Homo sapiens: one gene and its partner. The protein of the gene in region 1 interacts with the protein of each later gene in a pairwise test. Each region holds a gene or a part of one and is shown in the gene's direction. Other genes may lie near its edges.

Region 1 (3,654 bases):
CATTAAGAACATTTGTATAAGTTAGATAACGGGAAGTTTCTCATTAAATATGTATGTTTACTGTACTTGAAATATTTTTCATTTTATGTTCAGATTCCTCTGGAATAAGCAGAATTGCAGATGGATTCAATGGAATTTTCTCTGATCATTGTTACAGTGTCTGTTCTATGAGACAGCCAGATTTAAAATATTTTGACAACAAAGGTATATCTAATATTTTCGAAAATATGTTTCTTTAAACTGCTTTTACATTTTTTATTCCTTACTTGAAAATGTGGGTAAAATGTGGATTGATGATTTCAAAACAGACAAGTCTTTGAAATTTGTTACAATGTAAGAAAACAAAGTTGTATTTTTTTAAGAAAGCAAGTAATTTTAACTATTCTTTTTTTTTTTTTTTTTTTTTGAGATGGAGTCTCGCTTTGTCGCCCAGGCTGGAGTGCAGCAGCGCGATCTTGGCTCACTGCAACCTCCGCCTCCCAGGTTCAAGCAATTCTCCTGCCTTAGCTTCCTGAGTAGCTGGGGTTACAGGTGTGCGCCACCACGCTCAACTAATTTTTGTACTTTTAGTAGAGACAGGGTTTCACCATGTTGGTCAGGCTGGTCTCAAATTCCTGACCTCATGATCCGCCCACCTTGGCCTCCAAAAGTGCTGGGATTACAGGCTTGAGCCACCGTGCCCGGCTGTAATTTTAACTTTTAACATTATTTCTGACATATAAATAAAAAAGTGCACTCTCCTAAGTCCATTTTTTGAAGGGGGTGGGGTTAGGGGGAGACAGTCTTCATTCTGTCACCCATGCAGCCATGTCTCACTCCATGGATTATGGCTGACTGCATTCTTGACCTCTTGAGCTAAAGCAATCCTCCCACTCAGCCTTTTGAGTAGCTGGGACTACAGGCATGCACCACGATGCCTGGCTAATTTTTAAAAATTTTTTTGTAAAGACAGGGTCTTGCTGTGTTGCCCAGGCTGGTCTTGAACTCCTGGCCTCAAGCAGTCCTCCCATGTTGGCCTCACAGAGTGCTGAGATTGCAGGTGTGAGCCACGGCTCTCAGCCCTAAATCCACTTTAGTTGGTTAGGAATTGGTGGCAATGCAGGAGTGACTCAGAGTTGGAGTATTTATGTTGAAAGGTTAAGAATAGTGTTAGACACAGTTCTACTCAGCTATACCACATAGTGTGGAAGAAAAGAACAGAGGGTGATTTGGTATTTTTCAATGTTGGATCTTCTATTGGTTCCTCTGTTCTACAGCATTGGTGAATGATAACAATTTACAACTTGCACTTAAGTTAGAGAGTTAGAGACATCGGTATGAATTCCTGTTTAGCTTACTATAGATTCAGATGGCTACATACAGAATGCTTGTAGATATGTGTGTGTATATATATGTGGTACTGTACACACACACTTTGCTGTGTTAGCTGAGAGGGGCTAAAAGAAATGACACCCAGAAGCAGTGAGCATGAGCACATTCAGTGCCCAGCTCTTGGTTTCTAATGCCTCCTTGGGAAAATGGCTGATTCTAGGTCTGGGGCAGGAAATATACAAGATGAACCTGGAGCATTTTGTAGTGCTGGAAAATAGGAAAGTACTTAAAAAAACCTAAACACACGCACTTGACAGGGGTATGCCAAAGGGGCACACGTCAACTTAAAGAGCTCCCAACAGCCAAAACTGAAAACTATTTGGGGACAAAAAATTATAACCCAGAGTATAAAATAAATATCCATGAATTCATGCTGTTATAAATTATTAAATAGAGGAGATGAGGCAAATCTGTGCAGAAAAATTCCAAATTATTAGACTTCATCTTAGCCAAAAGGCCAAGAAGCAGTAAAACTCCAAATTATTTATGTAGCTACTCCTCCCTCTAGGAGGTGGAATATAAGTCTGCACTCCTTAAGCATGGTCTGCACATAGTGACTTCTTACAAAAGGTAAAGTATGGAAAGTAAAAGCACAACTTTAGGCCAGGTGCGGTGGCTCACGCCTGTAATCCCAGCACTTTGGGAGGCTGAGGCAGGCAGATCACCTGAGGTCAGGAGTTTGAGACCAGCCTCAACATGGAGAGACCCTGTCTCTACTAAAAATACAAAATTAGCTGGGCGTGGTGGTGCGTGCCTGTAATCCCAGCTACTCGGGAGGCTGAGGCAGGAGAATTGCTTGAACCTGGGAGGCGGAGGTTGTGGTGAGCCGAGATCGCGCCATTGCACTGCAGCCTGGGCAACAAGAGCGAAACTCCATCTCAAAAAAAAAAAAAAAAAAAAAGACAACTTTATAGTGTTGAAACCTGATAGAGACTTAGCCAGGTGATCAAGATCAACATCAACAACCATAAATCATATTGATAGTATGTACCCTTGATAAGAAGTGATGAAAATGGCAATTTACCTCTGGTCTATCTCCCAGTAATCCATAATTCCAGCGTAATCATTTTAAAAAAAAGAAAGCAGACAAATTCCATTAGCAAGGCATCCTACAGAATACCTGATTAGTACTCCTCAAGGAGTGAGAAACTGCCACAGCCAACAATAGCATAGAGAGACATGGCACCTTAATGGAATGTGGTATCCTGGAACAGAAAAGGGACATTAGGTTAAAAACTAAGGGCATTTAGATGACTTTATTGACTTTTATTAATAAGTTACCAGTATTGGTCATTAATTGTAACAAATGTGCCACACTAATGTTAGATGTTAGTAGTGGAGAAACTGGGATACATGGGACCTCTCCATACTATCCTCTCAGATTTTTCTGTAATTCTAAAACTATTCTAAAAAATAAGGTCTATTTTAAGAAAACATGATGGATGGGCTGAGTGTGGTGGCTCACGCCTGTAATCCCAGGTCTTTGGGAGGCCAAGGTGGGAGGATCGCTTGAGGCCAGGAGTTCAAGGCCAGCCTGGACAACATAGCAAGACCCCATCTCAAAAAACAAGAATTACCCGGGCTTGGTGGTGCATGTCTGTAGTCCTATCTACTCAGGAGGCTGAGGCTGAAGGATCACTTGAGCCCAGGAGTTTGAGGCTGCAGTGAGTGAGCCATGATCATGCCAGTGTACTCCAGCCTTGGCAGACTGAGCAAAACTTGGTCCCTCGCAAAATGTTGAAGCCCAGTTTTCACTATTAACCTGTATTTCAGTTTCCCCATGCTAACTTTGAAACACTGGGGCTGGCCTGAGGGTATAAAGGCTTATTCAAACTCAGTAATTTAAACTTAAAATCCTAAGGAACTTCAAAAAGTGTAATCTAGTCCAAATGGGGCATCAATTCTAAAGCATTTGCTTGTTTGAGCAGATTTTCTGTGTCTGAGGTATATAGATAACTTATCTTTTTATGACTAAATCCAAGTCCTTAGTTCCTGTTGGAATTCAAAATCATATTTAAAAATTGATGCTTTGTTCTATAATTAATGCTTTGATTGTATAAATAATAAGTATTCTTCCAAATCCCTTTTTACAGATGATGATTCTGATACCGAGACGTCAAATGACTTGCCAAAATTTGCAGATGGAATCAAGGCCAGAAACAGAAATCAGAACTACCTGGTTCCCAGTCCTGTACTTAGAATTCTAGACCACACTGCCTTTTCTACAGGTTGGGGGAACTAATTTATAGCATTGATATATTTTGTATTGGTGAATTTTAAAAA
Region 2 (3,654 bases), on another chromosome or scaffold:
GCCAGGTTTTAGTATATTTTTTAGGTTTTAATATATTCACTATGTTGTGCAACCATCACCACTATAATTTCCAGAACATTTTAATTACCCCAAAACTTGATACCCGTAAAGCAATTACTCCCCACTCTTTCCCCTCAGCCCCTGGCGACCACCAGTCTACTTTCTGTCTCTGTGGATTTGCCTATTCTGGATATATCGTATAAATGGAATTATGCAATATGTGGTCTTTTGTGACTCACTGCTTTTACTTTCCATGTTTTCTAAAGTCCATGTTGCAGTATGTGTTAGTACTCATCCATTTTTATGGCTGAATAATATCCCATTCTATGGATATACCACATCTTATTTATGCATTTGTCATTTTATATACTTGGCTTGTTTCTCCATTTTGGCTACTGTGAACAGCGCTGCTCTGAACATCTGTGAGCCAGTGTTTGCTTGAATGCCTGAGTTCATTTCTCTTGGGTGGATACCTAGGGGTGGAATTACTCGGGGTGTGGTAGCTCCATCTTTACCTTTCTGTGGAGCTGAAGGTTTCCACAGCAGCTGCACTATCTATATCCCCACCAGCCAGGTGGGAGTGTGTTCTGTACTTTCCTCTTTTTTGCCATGTCTTCTTGTCCTCAGGGCAAACACTGAGCATGGATGGTGCCAGCTGAGGCCAATCAGCTCACCTGCAGTGGGGGAGCCCCATGATAGAGCTTACTGCCAGCAGCTTTGCCAGTCCTGGGTGTATGAGTGGTGCTTTTTGAAATCTTGTCCCGCCCCCTCCAGCTCATTTACTTTATTCACACAGTGAGTCCGTACTCCACATTCTGGAGAAAGCTTCCCTTGTCTCCCTGTGGGGGCCTGTGAGAACCCCATCCAGACTCAGGGAGCCCAGCTCCCTCTACTCTGGTGTCTGTGGGTTAGATTCATGTCCACCTGCTGTTGGGACGGTCAGTGCCCATGAGCAGGTGAGGCCTGTGGCTGCTTGCCTCCCCATGTGCCCATATCATTCCCCATCCTGTTCTTGGGAAGCTGCATGGTCAAGACCTGAGGGCAGAAGGGACAGAAAGAGAGTAACAAGCTACAACAGCAGCCAACCCCTCACCTGGAAGGAGTAGCCTCAGACTCAGATCCACAAGTGTTTGGGAAGGGGATGTTTGTAACTGAGTGCCCATTCTCTCTCACACCCTTCCACCTGCGTGGGAGGTGACAGGTCACTCTAGGTGCCCTGTGCACAGTCCAGGCCACGGGGCAAAGCATGCTGGTGTTCAGCACCACCCAGATGTCCTCGTACTCAGAGAAGTTCCTTACTTCCAAGCATGCCTCCTTGAGTCCCAGGCTCCAGCTGGCTGATAGGTGGAGAGACCAAGGCATGAAGTGGCAGAGCCCACAGTGGGGGGAGGTGATGGATTTTCTCTAAATTAGACCTGATTAGTGCCACTCTTGAGGGAGGGAGATCGAGGAAGGATCGGCGCCTTTGGGAGTCTGCATCTGGCTCCGGGAAGTCTCAGGAAAACCCAGACCCCGAGTGGCTTTAAGGTGCAGAGGGAGAGGCAGCCTCACCTTTCCTGTCTCACACAGGCCTGGAGGGGACAGGAGGGTTGTGCAGTTATCACGTGTGACAAGTGAGGCTGAGAAACCTCACATCACACCAGAGTCCCCTTGTCCTTACTGTCACCCTGGCTTATTAGCAAATGCCTGGCCTGGGACTGGTACTTGCTGAACCCTTGGCACTGGGCCTTTCTGCTCTCCAGCTCAGGCCAGCAGCCTCCCATACAGCAGAGCAGGAACCGGGCCTGGCTGCTTCAAAGGCCTTTCGTGACCTGCAGAACTTGTCCAACTCTGCATTTTTGTCTTTAACCAGTTTGGTATGTTTCATTTCCACTCAAAAACATTCATCCCCAGAGTGCTGGCCATCAATGCATTTCTGCCATTGTGGTCATGATGTCCAAGAAGGAAATAACCCCCCAGGGGCAACTGGCAGCAGCTTCCTTTGGAGAACTGCAGCCAGTCGCTCTGAAGTGTCCTTGGCTGAAAAGTCAACATGTAGAGTCTTGGTTAAATGCTTCGTGAGTCCTTTTAGTTCCCGGTCAAGTTATTTCAGGCCACCAGGTGGCCCAGGGCAACTGCCTGTTAGAAATCTGCAAAACAGACAGAAAAAGTGACATCAGGTCAAGGACGTCTCACCATGTTGGCAAGGATGGTCTCGATCTCTTGACCTCGTGATCCGCCCCCCCCGGACTCCCCAAGTGTTGGGATTACAGGCATGAGCCACCACACCCGGCCCTCTGAGACATTTAATAAATGGATATCGGCTGGGTGCGGTGACTCACGCCTATAATCCCAGCACTTGGGGAGGCCGAGACGGGTGGATCACCTGAAGTCAGGAGTTCAAGACCAGCCCCGTGAACATGGTGAAACCCCGGCTCTACTAAGAAAAAAATACAAAATTAGCCGGGCTTGGTGGTGAATGCCTATAATCCCAGCTACTCAGGAGGCTTAGGCAGGAGAATTGCTTGAACCCAGGAGGCGGAGGTTGCGGTGAGCTGAGATTGTGCCACTTCATTCCAGCCTGGGCAACAAGAGTGAAACCCTGTCTCTAAATAAATAAAAATAAACAAACAAACAAACAAATAAATAAAGGGATATCTGGCCAGGTACGGTGGCTCACGCCTGTAATCCCAGCGCTTTGGGAGGCCGAGGTGGGCAGATCACAAGGTCAGGAGTTCAAGACCAGCCTGGCCAGCATGGTGAAACCCCATCTCTACTAAAAATACAAAAAATTAGCCAGACATGGTGGCAGGCACCTGTAATCCCAGCTACTCAGGAGGCTGAGGCAGGAGAATTGCTTGAACCCAGCAGGCGGAGGTTGCAGTGAGCTGAGATGGCGCCACTGCACTGCAGCCTGGGTGACAGAGAGAGCCTCTGTCTCAAAAAACACCAAAATAAATAAAATAAAATAAGAGGATATCTGCCTTGCACAGAATAGGGAACACAGGACAAAAGGAGAAGAATCTGAGCTCCTGTGCCGAGTGAAGCAGTGATTTACGAGGGTGCCACAAGTGTGTCCATCTCACGCTCTGCATATGATGTTAGCCATCCGGGATTCAGAGTCTAAAGGCTGTGCTGGACAGATCCATCTTTGTTCTGGAAACAATGAGATCTAGGGAGGGGACAGGAGGATTGTGCACTTATCACGTGTGAGGCTGAGAAACCTCACATCACATCACAATGAGGAAAATATTTATTTATTTATTTATTTTTGAGACGGAGTCTCGCTCTGTCGCCCAGGCTGGAGGGCAGTGGCCCAATCCCAGCTTACTGCATCCTCCACCTCACAGGTTCAAGTGATTCTCCTGCCTTAGCCTCCTGAGTAGCTGGGACTACAGGCATGCATCACCATGCCCGGCAATTTTTTTTTTTTTTTTTTTGAGACAGAGTCTCGTTCTGTCGCCCAGGCTGGAGTGCAGTGGCGTGATCTCGGCTCACTGCAAGCTCCGCCTCCCGGGTTCACACCAGTCTCCTGCCGCAGCCTCCCGAGTAGCTGGGACTACAGGCGCCCGCCACCACGCCCAGCTAATTTTTTGTATTTTTAGTAGAGACGGGGTTTCACCGTGTTAGCCAGGATGGTATCGATCTCCTGACCTCGTGATCTGCCCACCTAGG

The links.
Region 2: the proteins of ZNF639 (region 1) and ZNF837 interact in binary tests that used the Homo sapiens proteins (3 or more experiments, as listed by UniProt).

Annotation. Positions count from the first base shown.
Region 1 is NC_000003.12:179,329,525-179,333,178, forward strand, and holds part of ZNF639 (zinc finger protein 639), read left to right. Parts: intron 1-93; coding exon 94-204; intron 205-3,464; coding exon 3,465-3,599; intron 3,600-3,654. UniProt on the Homo sapiens protein: Binds DNA and may function as a transcriptional repressor.
Region 2 is NC_000019.10:58,371,006-58,374,659, reverse strand, and holds part of ZNF837 (zinc finger protein 837), read left to right. Parts: intron 1-6; exon of another isoform or gene 7-2,118; intron 2,119-3,654. UniProt on the Homo sapiens protein: May be involved in transcriptional regulation.